Linked DNA regions of Homo sapiens. The protein of the gene in region 2 purifies or fractionates together with the protein of the main gene of each other region. This does not show direct contact. Each region holds a gene or a part of one and is shown on either strand. Other genes may lie near its edges.

Region 1 (4,340 bases), on a different chromosome or scaffold from region 2:
AAGAATTGATTCTATGATTAAAGAGATGGAGGAAGGCATGATATGTGAGCTGCAGGAAAAAATTCCTGTTATTTTCTTCCTATTGTGGTTATCAGAAAGATTCTTAAAATTATTACTTGGGTTTTTAAACTGATTGAAAAATTAAAACTCTAATGGAACTTTTAGTCCTATCCAAGCACAAATGTCTAGATAAAAAACAAAAATCTGCCAAAAAACAAAAATCAAATCAAACAAACAAAAAAAGAAAGGCTTTAACCATGATCCAGTTTCCAGATGCCAATATCCATAAATGGGTAGGAGATTATGAATTACTAATTCCCATCTCCCCACCAATAAAAAGCAAACCAGCTCAGCAGTGAAAATTCCCAGAAAAGCAAGGTTTCTTCTTAGTCCTGAAGCAGCCATCGCCTAAGTGCTGCTCCCTGCAGCCAGCAGCATTAATGGACGCTGCACTGCTGTCCTTCCCTGGAGACAGCAGCCAGCACTACTCAAGCTTCTCACGTAGCAACCAGAGCTCCAGAGCCAGCAGCTGCTGCTGCCTTGTATACTCACCCCTGTGATCCAACCCAAAGGAACAACCTTCTCTTTACCCCACCCCCACTCCTTACACACACTTTTTTTTTTTTTTTTTGGACCAGTGCTCCATGCCAGAAGGGCTGGAATTATGCTTTTAAGAAAGAAACAATCCTAAGGTCACCCTTTTAAACCAAGGCCTTTTATTAGAAAAATCAACATTTACCAAATTCTAAATATCCATTTTAATTAAGCCAGCAGTTTAGGAGTGAAGATTAAGCTTTGGTCTTTTGAAAGCCAATTTCCCAAGCACTCTACAATCTAATTTAAATTTGCAGCTAGAAACAGAGCCTTGTGTCATGTCCTACCAAAGGGCATAATTCATTTTTCTACACATAATGACAGTCTGAGTAAACCTTAAAGACTCTAATCCCATAACAGGCCAGAATTTTTGGCTACAGAAGAGAACTAATGATCCTGAGAAAACTGGAAGAAATCCAATAGAAAAAAAAAAGCCCTACGTCCTCTATGGAGCCCAGAAACCTCTGATTACGTGGGTATTCTCTGCTTTAGTCCTAGCTCAGATCCCACACATCTAAAATTACCACTTAGAACTTTCTGTGACCTAAAAACATTAATAATATAAAATTAACAACCAAAAAATAATTTCAAATAGGGAGTACACACTCTCCTAAAAAGCTCAGCACACTCCACTCAGCTGGATCCTCCCCAATCACAAGTATAGCTATGTAACATCTGTCCAACAAAGAAATGTAAATATGACCTTGGTCACAAATATGTCATCTAAAAACTTGTTTAGTCAACTGATGAAGGTAATTAGCACAGAACTTGGGGATTCGTTCAGTACCTATGTGCAGGAAGGAAACTGGAGAAATGAACTTAAATATAGACAAAGCCCAGTGGAACCCAGAGGTCTGGGAAAGAAATGAGTTACCGGTGAATACATTGCACAAGTAACATGAGAAAGCAGAAAATGCAGGTCATACACGCACCCCTGACCCAGACCAGCAGAGCTGACTGCAGCATCCATATCCAAGAGAAAGACCACTGACGCCCAAGAAGTGAGACAAGCAAGGACTCTATAGAATCAATTAGCATAGAAGGGGCTTTCCCAACAGTTTAACTTTCCCTCTCATGCGATTTACCTACTTGAACCAGGGCTCTTTCCTACACTCCTCTTCACATTCCCGACTTACACGCAGAGGGAAAGAGAATTCATAAAGGGAATATTTTTCTGCCTTTGAAGATATTCTCACAAGATCGTTCTCCACGCCCAAGGCAAGTAAAACGACACAATCTGGCTCAACTCCAGGCTCGAACCCTACACATTCAACGAGGCTATCTCAGACACGCTGTGGCACACGCCACGGGGAGCCAGAGAACGTGTGGTGGGGGTGGCGAAGGTAATGCCTTTGGGAAGCAGCCATCTGAGGTGGGAAGCCAGAAAACGAGAGGGAAGGCGTCCAGGAAGATTACGGAGGGGAGATCGCGGCCCCCAGAGCGATCAGAGTTGTCTGTCACAAGGCCGCGAGAACGGGGGTAGGGAGTGGGGGATCGGGGAGAGAAAAAAAGTATGCCTGTGTATTTCGAGCGGAGGGCAGCAAGAGGCCTCTCCTCAAGGGAAAGGTAAACGTGGAGTAGGCAGTTCCCAGGAAAGGGGGTGAAGAGGCGTTGGGGGAGGGGAAGCGTCCTGACCCAGGAAAAACATGAAAGGGGGAGTTGGGTCGCCTAGATTAGAGGGGGATCTCTCTCCCTGGGAAAATGGGGTGTTGCAACGGTGTGTGCAAGGCGGCGAGGGGGGTGAGAAGTGGCAGCATCCTCCTAAGAGCTTGGGGAGGGCCAGGCCCACGACCCAAGGAGAGCGAGCGCGGGGAGACGGAGGAGGTGACCCTTCCCTCCCCTGGGGCCCGATCGTGAGGTTCGGTCTCTTTTCTGTCGGACCCTTACCTTGTCCCAGGCGCTGCCGGGGCCTGGGCCCGGGCTGCGGCGCACGGCACTCCCGGGAGGCGGCAGGACTCGAGTTAGGCCCAACGCGGCGCCACGGCGTTTCCTGGCCGGGAATGGCCCGTACCCGTGAGGTGGGGGTGGGGGGCAGAAAGGCGGAGCGAGCCAAAGGCGGGGAGGGGGGGCAGGGCCAGGGAAAGAGGGGGGCCGGCACTACTGTGTTGGCGGACTGGCGGGACTGGGGCTGCGTGAGTCTCTGAGCGCAGGCGGGCGGCGGCCGCCCCTCCCCCGGCAGCGGCGGCGGCGGCGGCGGCGGCGGCGGCGGCGGCAGCTCACTCAGCCCGCTGCCCGAGCGGAAACGCCACTGACCGCACGGGGATTCCCAGCGCCGGCGCCAGGGGCACCCGGGACACGCCCCCTCCCGCCGCGCCATTGGCCTCTCCGCCCACCGCCCCGCACCCATTGGCCCACTCGCCGCCAATCAGCGGAAGCCGCCGGGGCCGCCTAGAGAAGAGGCTGTGCTTCGGCGCTCCGGCTCCTCAGAGAGCCTCGGCTAGGTAGGGGAGCGGAACTCTGGTGGGAGGGGAGGTGCGGTACACTGGGGGGATGGGTGGCTAGGGGGGCCGTCTGGTGGCTTGCGGGGGTTGCCTTTCCCGTGGGAAGTCGGGAACATAATGTTTGTTACGTTGGGAGGGAAAGGGGTGGCTGGATGCAGGCGGGAGGGAGGCCCGCCCTGCGGCAACCGGAGGGGGAGGGAGAAGGGAGCGGAAAATGCTCGAAACCGGACGGAGCCATTGCTCTCGCAGAGGGAGGAGCGCTTCCGGCTAGCCTCTTGTCGCCGATTGGCCGTTTCTCCTCCCGCCGTGTGTGAAAACACAAATGGCGTATTCTGGTTGGAGTAAAGCTCCTGTCAGTTACGCCGTCGGGAGTACGCAGCCGCTTAGCGACTCTCGCGTTGCCCCCTGGGTGGGGCGGGTAGGTAGGTGGGGTGTAGAGATGCTGGGTGTGCGGGCGCGGCCGGCCTCCTGCGGCGGGAGGGGAGGGTCAGTGAAATCGGCTCTGGCGCGGGCGTCCTCCCACCCTCCCCTTCCTTCGGGGGAGTCGGTTTACCCGCCGCCTGCTTGTCTTCGACACCTGATTGGCTGTCGAAGCTGTGGGACCGGGCCCTTGCTACTGGCTCGAGTCTCACATGAGCGAAACCACTGCGCGGGGCGCGGGGGTGGCGGGGAGGCGGGCGTTGGTACGGTCCTCCCCGAGGCCGAGCGCCGCAGTGTCTGGCCCCGCGCCCCTGCGCAACGTGGCAGGAAGCGCGCGCTGGAGGCGGGGGCGGGCTGCCGGCCGAGACTTCTGGATGGCGGCGGCCGCGGCTCCGCCCCGGGTTCCCACCGCCTGAAGGGCGAGACAAGCCCGACCTGCTACAGGCACTCGTGGGGGTGGGGGAGGAGCGGGGGTCGGTCCGGCTGGTTTGTGGGTGGGAGGCGCTTGTTCTCCAAAAACCGGCGCGAGCTGCAATCCTGAGGGAGCTGCGGTGGAGGAGGTGGAGAGAAGGCCGCACCCTTCTGGGCAGGGGGAGGGGAGTGCCGCAATACCTTTATGGGAGTTCTCTGCTGCCTCCCGTCTTGTAAGGACCGCCCTGGGCCTGGAAGAAGCCCTCCCTCCTTTCCTCCTCGCGTGATCTCGTCATCGCCTCCATGTCGAGTCGCTTCTCGATTATGGGCGGGATTCTTTTGCCTAGGCTTAAGGGGCTAACTTGGTCCCTGGGCGTTGCCCTGCAGGGGAGTGAGCAGCTGTAAGATTTGAGGGGCGACTCCGATTAGTTTATCTTCCCACGGACTAGAGTTGGTGTCGAGGTTATTGTAATA
Region 2 (4,246 bases):
CTGGGGCAGGAGAATGGTGTGAACCCGGGAGGTGGAGCTTGCAGTGAGCCAAGATTGTGCCACTGCACTCCAGCCTGGGAGACAGCGTGAGACTCCGTCTCCAAAAAAAAAAAAAATTGTTGATTGGCCGGCGCAGTGGCTCACACCTGTAATCCCAGCACTTTGGGAGGCTGAGGTGGGTGGCTCACCTGAGGTCAAGAGTTTGAGACCCGCCTGACCAACATGGTGAAACTTCGTCTCTACTAAAAATACAAAAATTACCGAGGCGTGGTGGCGGGCACCTGTAATCCCAGCTACTCAGGAGGCTGAGGCAGGACAATCGCTTGAACCTAGGAGGTGGAGGTTGCAGTGAGCCAAGACCACGCCATTGCACTCCATCCTGGGCAACAAGAGCAAAAACTCCGTCTCAAATTTAAAAAAACACACACACACATTTGCTGATTAAATGACACATCCATTTCCTAACTGCGCTGGAGAACCTGAGCTCAAATGTGTAGGAGTGGGTAGAAAAGAGACATGAGTGAAATATTAAAATCTCCACAAAGGCATGTATGGAGGTTTATCCTGGAGTATTTAGCATCCTGAAACAAGGGGCTCCTGTGTAAGGAGAAAGGAAGTTTGAGCAAATCATAAAGGTCCCTTTTGCCTGACAAAGATTAGACAACATCGGCTGGGCGTGGTGGCTCATGCCTGTAATCCCAGCACTTTGGGAGGCCGAGGCAGGCGGATCACAAGGTCAGGAGTTTGAGACCAGCCTGACCAACATGGCGAAACCCTGTCTCTACTAAAAATACAAAAATTAGCTGGGCGTGGTGGTGCGTGCCTGTAATCCCAGCTACTCGGGAGGCTGAGGCAGGAGAATTGCTTGAACCCAGGAGGCAGAGGTTGCAGTGAGCTGAGATGGCGCCACTGCACTCCAGCCTGGGCGACAGAGTGAGACTGTCTCAAAAAAACAAACAAACAAACAAAAACAAAAAAAAAAGATTAGACAACCTCCATTGACCCAATTCTTAACGCTTTTTTTTTTTTTTTTTTTTTTTTGTGAGGCAGGGTCTCTTCAGTTAATAGGGTTGCTTAAAAAAAAAAAAAAAAAGAGAGAGACAGGGTCTCAATCTGTTTCCCAGGCCAGAGTGCTGTGGTACAATCAGGGCTCACTGCAGCCTCGACCTCCTGGGCTCAAGTGATCCTCCCACCTCAGCCCCCCACCCCAAGAAGCTGGGACTACAGGTGCACCATGTAGTCCCACCATGAACACTCCTGAGTTCATGACACATGTAAGTGGTCCATGCAGGGCCTTTTCTCCTTTGTGTTTATTTATGTATTCCCTTTTGTCCCTATTCTTCCCCTCTCTCCCCACCACACCTGGCTAATTTTTTTGTTGTTTGTTTTTGAGACAGAGTCTTACTCTGTCGCCCAGGCTGGAGTACAGTGGCACGATCTTGGCTCATTGCAACCTTTGCTTCCCAGTTTCAAGCGATTCTCCTGCCTCAGCCTCCCAAGTAGCTGGAATTACAGACACCTGCCACCACACCCGGCTAAATTTTGTATTTTTAGTAGAGACGGGGTTTCACCATGTTGGCCAGGCTGGTCTTGAACTCCTGGCCTCAAGTGATCCTCCCGCCTTGGCCTCCCAAAGTGCTGGGGTTACAAGCGTGAGCCACTGCGCCCAGCCTAATTTTTTGGAGCGACAGGGTTTCACCATGTTGGCCAGGTTGGTCTTGAAGTGCTGAGCTCAAGCCGTCTGCCAGTCTCAGCCTCCCAAAGTGCTGGAATTACGGGCGTGAACCACCGTGCCCAGCCAATTCTTATGCTTTTGCAGCCGCGACCTCCATCCACTCTCTACCCTACATGTCACTCCTCTGCTTAAAACCAAAAGATTTCCACTGTACTTAGAAAAAACTCCACATTCCTCTCTCTGACCTACAGACTCTATGTGACCAAACCCCAATTATCCGACCTCATCTCCTACCACTCTTTCCCTTTCTTACCATACTTTAGCCACACTAGCTTGCTTTCTGTTCCTTGACTATACTCTCAGTTGATTTCTGCCCTAGGGCCTTCACACTGGCTGTTCCCGCTGCCTGGACCACTCTCTTCCCGTATCTTCCTAAGCCTGCCTCCTAATTTGGGTCTCAACGCAAATGTCCCGTCCTCAGAGATGCTCTGCTAGACCACAGTATCTAATACTGACCCCTCCGCCCCACCCTCACACCAGTTACCGTGTCATATCGCCCTCCTCCATTTTTTTTTTTTTTTTACTATACAGTCCTACTTGAAGTTTCTAATCTTTCTTTTCTCATTAACCAAAACTGGAGGGAGGAAAAAGCCCATCATTTTCCCTGGACAGCAGCGCCTACTGGGAGTTTCACCCGCATTAACATGCAAACGACAGGCAAACTCCTAGTCATCCTTCCAAAGACCCTGCTCCATAGCCCTGCCGAGCCCGGTGCGCACCTGCTCACTTCCGACCCAGCGCGGTCGCACGAGGACTGGACGTTTGAGTCCGAGCAACTCCCCCCGGCTGAGGCGGCTCTTCGGGGGCTGGGCCGGGACCTATGAGTCTGGGACTCCAGCTCCCGGCCCAGGGCCGACAACTGCGAAGAGAACAAGCCCAAGGGCAGATTGTTCGGGGCTTAGTCGTGGGTAGCAGGGGTTCTGGAGAAGGCTGGGGCCCGGGAGGCCGGCCGAGCTTTCCCCGCCGCGCGCCTCAGCTCCGCCGGCCGCTGTGCCCGCCCTCGGCCCGCACCTGCCGGCTCCCAAGCCCGCCCGCTCTCACCTCGCCCCGCAGCCCCGGCCCCGGCTTCCGGCGCCACTGTCATCGGAACCGGAAGCCGCGGCGGGCGATCGGCGGCCCGGGCCCGCCCATTGGCGGTTTTGCGGAGGGGTGGCCGTCCCACGAGCCCGCGGCTTTGCGCCTCACCGCCGAGGCTCCCCGCCGCGCATGCCGAGTGGAGTCGCCCGCGGGAACCGGGCGGCGGCCAGAAAAGCCGCGCCTGTAGTCCTCTGGGGGTCGCGCCTGGTCGTTTCCAGGTTCCGAGTCCCTCCGGCCCGGCCCCGGGCCTCCCAGTCGGCGGAAGCCCCTGGCCGCGACCGCTCCTCGCCGGCGGGCGGGTTCCCCACCCGGCAGAGGCGTCGGCCTCGCACTCAACCCAGCACCCGACTCCCGGGTCAGAAGCCCCAAGCCCCAAGTGGTTACGCTTACAGCGCTGCCCGCCCTGCTCAGTGAGGGCGGCGCGGGGGCCGTGAGGGGCAGTGGCTGGGCTAGGTGCGCACCGGCCTCGGCAGGGCTGTGGAGCAGGGTCTTTGGAAGGATGACTAGGAGTTTGCCTGTCGTTTGCATGTTAATGCGGGTGAAACTCCCAGTAGGCGCTGCTGTCCAGGGAAAATGATGGGCTTTTTCCTCTCTCCAGTTTTGGTTAATGAGAAAAGAAAGATTAGAAACTTCAAGTAGGACTGTGAACAGGCTTAGGGATCCTGGACAGAGCCTAGAAATCTCAGGAGAACTGAGAGCTCTTGAAATATGAAGTGATGCTTAAAAAAAAAAAGAAAACTCCAGGCCGGGCGCGGCGGCTCACGCCTGTAATCCCAGCACTTTGGGAGGCCGAGGCGGGCGGATCAGGAGGTCAGGAGATCGAGACCATCCTGGCTAACACGGTGAAACCCCGTCTCTACTAAAAATACAAAAAATTGGCCGGGCGAGGTGGGGGGCGCCTGTAGTCCCAGCCACTCGGGAGGCTGAGGCAGGAGAATGTCGTGAACCCGGGAGGCGGAGCTCGGAGTGAGCCGAGACGGCGCCACTGCACTCCAGCCTGGGCGACAGAGCGAGACTCCGTCTCAAAAAAAAAGAATAGAAAACTCCGGGCCGGGCGGCTCACGCCTGTAATCCCAGCACTTTGGGAGGCTGAGGCGGGCGGAACATAAGGTCAGGAGTTCGAGACCAGCCTGTCCAATATGGTGAAACCCCGTCTGTACTAAAAATACAAAAATTAGCCGGGAATGGTGGCAGGCGCCTGTAGTCCCATGATCCTAGCTACTCGGGAGACTGAGGCAGGAGAATCGTTTGAACCCGAGAGGCGGAGGTTGCAGTGAGCCGAGATCGCGCCATTGCACTCCAGCCTAGGCGACAGAGCGAGACTCCGTCTCAAAAAAAAAAAAAAGAAAAGAAAAGAAAACTCCTTTCCTGTCCCAGCCTTTCTGGTCCCCTTAGCCCGAACTTAATCTGCCCACTGGGTATTCAACAGAATTC
Region 3 (3,642 bases), on a different chromosome or scaffold from region 2:
CTAAACTTAGAACAAAACCTTCAGTCTTGAATGACCACCAAAACTAACACCACCAAGGTCATCCAAGACTCACCAAGTATTAAACAAGATTTTTAAAAATAAAACGTCTTTCAATCTTCAGTCACAAATAAAAAATATTTTAGTATCAAAAGATTTTATACCATTAAAGAAATTATGTTTCTAAATGTTTCCTTTTTCTCATTTTTTATTCCTATTTTGTATGTCATAATTATATATGGGTTATACTTATATATTTTATATATATGATGAAAAGATCGAATGCTTTCATGACAAATCAGCTTAATGACTGAAATGGTTTAATGGACACGAAAGCATACAGACATGCATACACACTCACATATAAAAGTATACTCTCAACCCCTTTTTATTGATTTTAAAATACTGAAATACAAGTCTAAGATTTAGAGACCTTAAGTAGTTCCAACAGCACCATCACAGAGCCCACTAGCAAAAAAGGTCAGGTCTTCAGCAGTGAAATTCCCAAAGACAATCTGTCTCCATCACAGAACCTCATAAAAGCAAGATTTGACAAAGAAATGACATGAAAGCAAATGCTATGTAGTGAACTGGTAGGTGACCACAAACAGAGTGAGCATCAGAAACCATACTTCAAAGACACTCAAGGAACAAAGAAGAAATACAGCCTGAGGAAAGGCAGCAGGATAGGAACTACTGGAGGCAGCAGGACCCAGGGTTTCTTCTTCATTCTACCAGACATCGTGCTAGGCATGGCTCAGTGAACAAGCAGGAGAGATTCAGGCAGAGCAGACAGCAAATGCGGACATCCTTGGCTGGGGGAAAGCCTGCCATGCCAAGAGTGGGTCTGGCTGGACTAGCTAGAGTAAGGGGGAAAGGGAAGAAGGTCCGAAGGGCCAGATCATGGCAGCAGTTTGAGGTGACGGAAAACACACAATGCCATCTCTGAGAAAAGCAGCAAAAGGACCAAACCAGCCCCACAGTCCTGGGAACACCTGACAGGAAGGTGTGGAATACGTGATCTGGCTGGATGGGGATGGCGACCAAGGTTCCAGAACAGAGCAGTGGGCGCCGACACGGGTCCAGAGCACATTCTGAAGCATTCCAAAAGCAGATGCTGACTCACGGCCAAGCTGCACTGAGGTGGCAGTCCACACCTCAGAGGGGACAGCATCTCCTCTCTTATCCTATAATGGTCACACACAGGCCAACCTCCCTAAAAATATTTACACGAAGAGGCCACTGCTTGTGGAGAAAGTTCAAAACAGGTACAGATTTTAAGAAAAAAAACCGGCCGGGCACAGAGGCTCATGCCTGTAATCTCAGCACTTTGGGAGGCTGAGGCGGATCATGAGGTCAGAAGATGAGACCAGCCTGGCCAACACAGTGAAACCCCGTCTCCACTAAAAATACAAAAATTAGCCGGACATTGTGGTGGGCACCTGTAATCCCAGCTACTTGGGAGGCTGAGGCAGGAGAATCGCAGGAGTTGTAGTGAGCCGAGTTCGCACCCCTGCACTCCAGCCTGGGTGACAGAGCAAGGCTCTGTCCCAAAAATAAATAAAAAATAAAACCCTAGATCCTAATCCCAGTCCTACCACTAAGTCAAAAGTTCCCCTAACCTCATCTTCCATTGTCATCTACCAGTAGGGAAGACACATGCCTGACTTCAAAGGGAATAGATAATCAAATGCTTTAATGATAAAGTGACTTGGTAATAAACACAGTGGAAGAAATTTATAAACAGTAAACTGCTAAGGACAGAGACCTTCTTTCATGGTTTCTTAAATCCTTATTTCCCCTCAATCCCAAGCACTTAAACAGGTTAAGTAAGAAAAAGTATTCTCTCACAGAACACATACTCTACGGGAAGAAGCAGTCAACAAATAAGCATAAGACAAGAAAGATATGGTAAGTCTATGGAAGCAGAAGACAGAAAAAATAATTCTCATTAAGGAAATGGGTAACAAAGCTCCCTCAAGAAAGTATTAACAGAGCTGAGCCTTAAAAAGACTAAAGGCCATTACAAAAAGAAGACCACTGAGCAAAAATGTAAGTGAAGACAGTTCAGTAAGATGGTCTGTGTGCATTTGGCTGTGTAGAAAAATAAGGCCGGGCACGGTGGCTCATGCATGTAATCCCAACGCTTCGGGAGGCCAAGGCAGGCAGATCACCTGAGGTCAGGAGTTCGAGACCAGCCCGGCCAACATGGTGAAACCCCCACCTCTATTAAAAATACAAAAAAACTAGCCAGGCCTGGTGGCACATGCCTATAATCCCAGCTACTCAGGAGGCTGAGGCAGGAGAATTGCTTGAACCCAGGAGGTGGAGGTTGCAGTAAACCAAGATGGCACCACTGCATTCCAGCCTGAGTGACAGAGTGAGATTCCATCTCAATAAAAAATAAAATAAAAAATAAAAATAATAGCCTGGGACCATATTAGGGGCCAAGGGGATTTGTACTGTACTGAAGTGTTTGACCTGTACTGAGCAGTGGGGAGTTACCCAAGGTTTCCAAAAAGGAAAATGGCACATCCAGAGCTATTCCTAAGGAAGACCACTCTGATGGCAGTGTAATGGAGCAGATTTTTCTCGTTTCAGAGGCTATTTTAGTTGTCCAATGAAGAGGTTACAGAACAAGGAACAGGCAAAGATGAAAAGGAAACAGAATGACACCTAAAAGTCACAGATATGTATGCAGGCAAAGAAGTTTAGCCTGGGTTTTTTTCCACCTTTTAGTGTTATTACACCTGTCCTTTAGGGGGAAATATGAAAATCTGGTTTGGTTTGCTTTTGAGATGGGGTCTTGCTACGTTGCCCAGTCTGGAGTACAGTGGCACCATCAAAGCTCACTGCAGCCTCCAAGTCCTAGGCTCAAGCCATCCTCCTGCCTCAGCCTCCTGAGAAGCTGGTGGCACATACATGGCTAATTTTTAATTTTTCGTAGAGACGGGGTCTCTCTCTGTTGCCCAGGCTGGTTTTGAAGGCATCCTCCTTCCTTGGCCTCCCAAAGTGCTGGGACTAGAGGTGTGAGCCACCGTACTCAGCCATAACCTTTTTTGGTTTTTGTTCGAGACAGGTCTTGCTCTGTCACCCAGGCTGGAGTGTAGTGGCACAATCACAGCTCACTGCAGCCTCGACCTCCCATACTCAAGCATTCCTCCCACCTCAGCCTCTAGACCTGCAGCACTGCACCTGGATAATTTTATTATTTGTAGAGAACAAGTCTCACCATGTTGCCCAAGCTGAGAATCTGGTTTTAAACATAGGTCAAAATAACTTTCTCGACCCACCACAATTTTCATTTTATACAGATGGGGTCTCACTATGTTGCCCAGGCTGGCCTCAAACTCCCGGGCTCAAGCAATCCTCCTGTCTCTGCCTCCCAAAATGCTAGGATTACAGGTGTGAGCCACCAGGCCCAGTCTTGGACTTTTTTAATAACAAAAATATCAATAATCTTAAAGGATGACAAACTATCAATCATTCGTATGTCAAAAATGTACAAACAAGCTTGGGCAACATGGTGACCTAGTCTCTACAAAAAATAAAGATTGCCGGCGTGGTGGCGCACACCTGTAATCCCAGCACTTTGGGAGGCCGAGGCGGGCGGATCACAAGGTCAGGAGATTGAGACCATCCTGG

Evidence for each region.
Region 1: the proteins of RMND5B (region 2) and SETD5 purify together in Homo sapiens (affinity purification with mass spectrometry; one large-scale study listed by BioGRID and IntAct). This does not show direct contact.
Region 3: the proteins of RMND5B (region 2) and UCK2 purify together in Homo sapiens (affinity purification with mass spectrometry, with the first as the bait; one large-scale study listed by BioGRID). This does not show direct contact.

The regions. Positions count from the first base shown.
Region 1 is NC_000003.12:9,396,119-9,400,458, reverse strand, and holds the start of SETD5 (histone-lysine N-methyltransferase SETD5), read right to left. Parts: upstream 2,845-4,340; 5' UTR 2,482-2,844; intron 1-2,481.
Region 2 is NC_000005.10:178,129,585-178,133,830, reverse strand, and holds the start of RMND5B (E3 ubiquitin-protein transferase RMND5B), read right to left. Parts: upstream 2,818-4,246; 5' UTR 2,777-2,817; exon of another isoform or gene 2,595-2,776; 5' UTR 2,455-2,594; intron 1-2,454. UniProt on the Homo sapiens protein: Core component of the CTLH E3 ubiquitin-protein ligase complex that selectively accepts ubiquitin from UBE2H and mediates ubiquitination and subsequent proteasomal degradation of the transcription factor HBP1.
Region 3 is NC_000001.11:165,830,534-165,834,175, reverse strand, and holds part of UCK2 (uridine-cytidine kinase 2), read right to left. Parts: intron 1-3,642. UniProt on the Homo sapiens protein: Phosphorylates uridine and cytidine to uridine monophosphate and cytidine monophosphate. Does not phosphorylate deoxyribonucleosides or purine ribonucleosides. Can use ATP or GTP as a phosphate donor.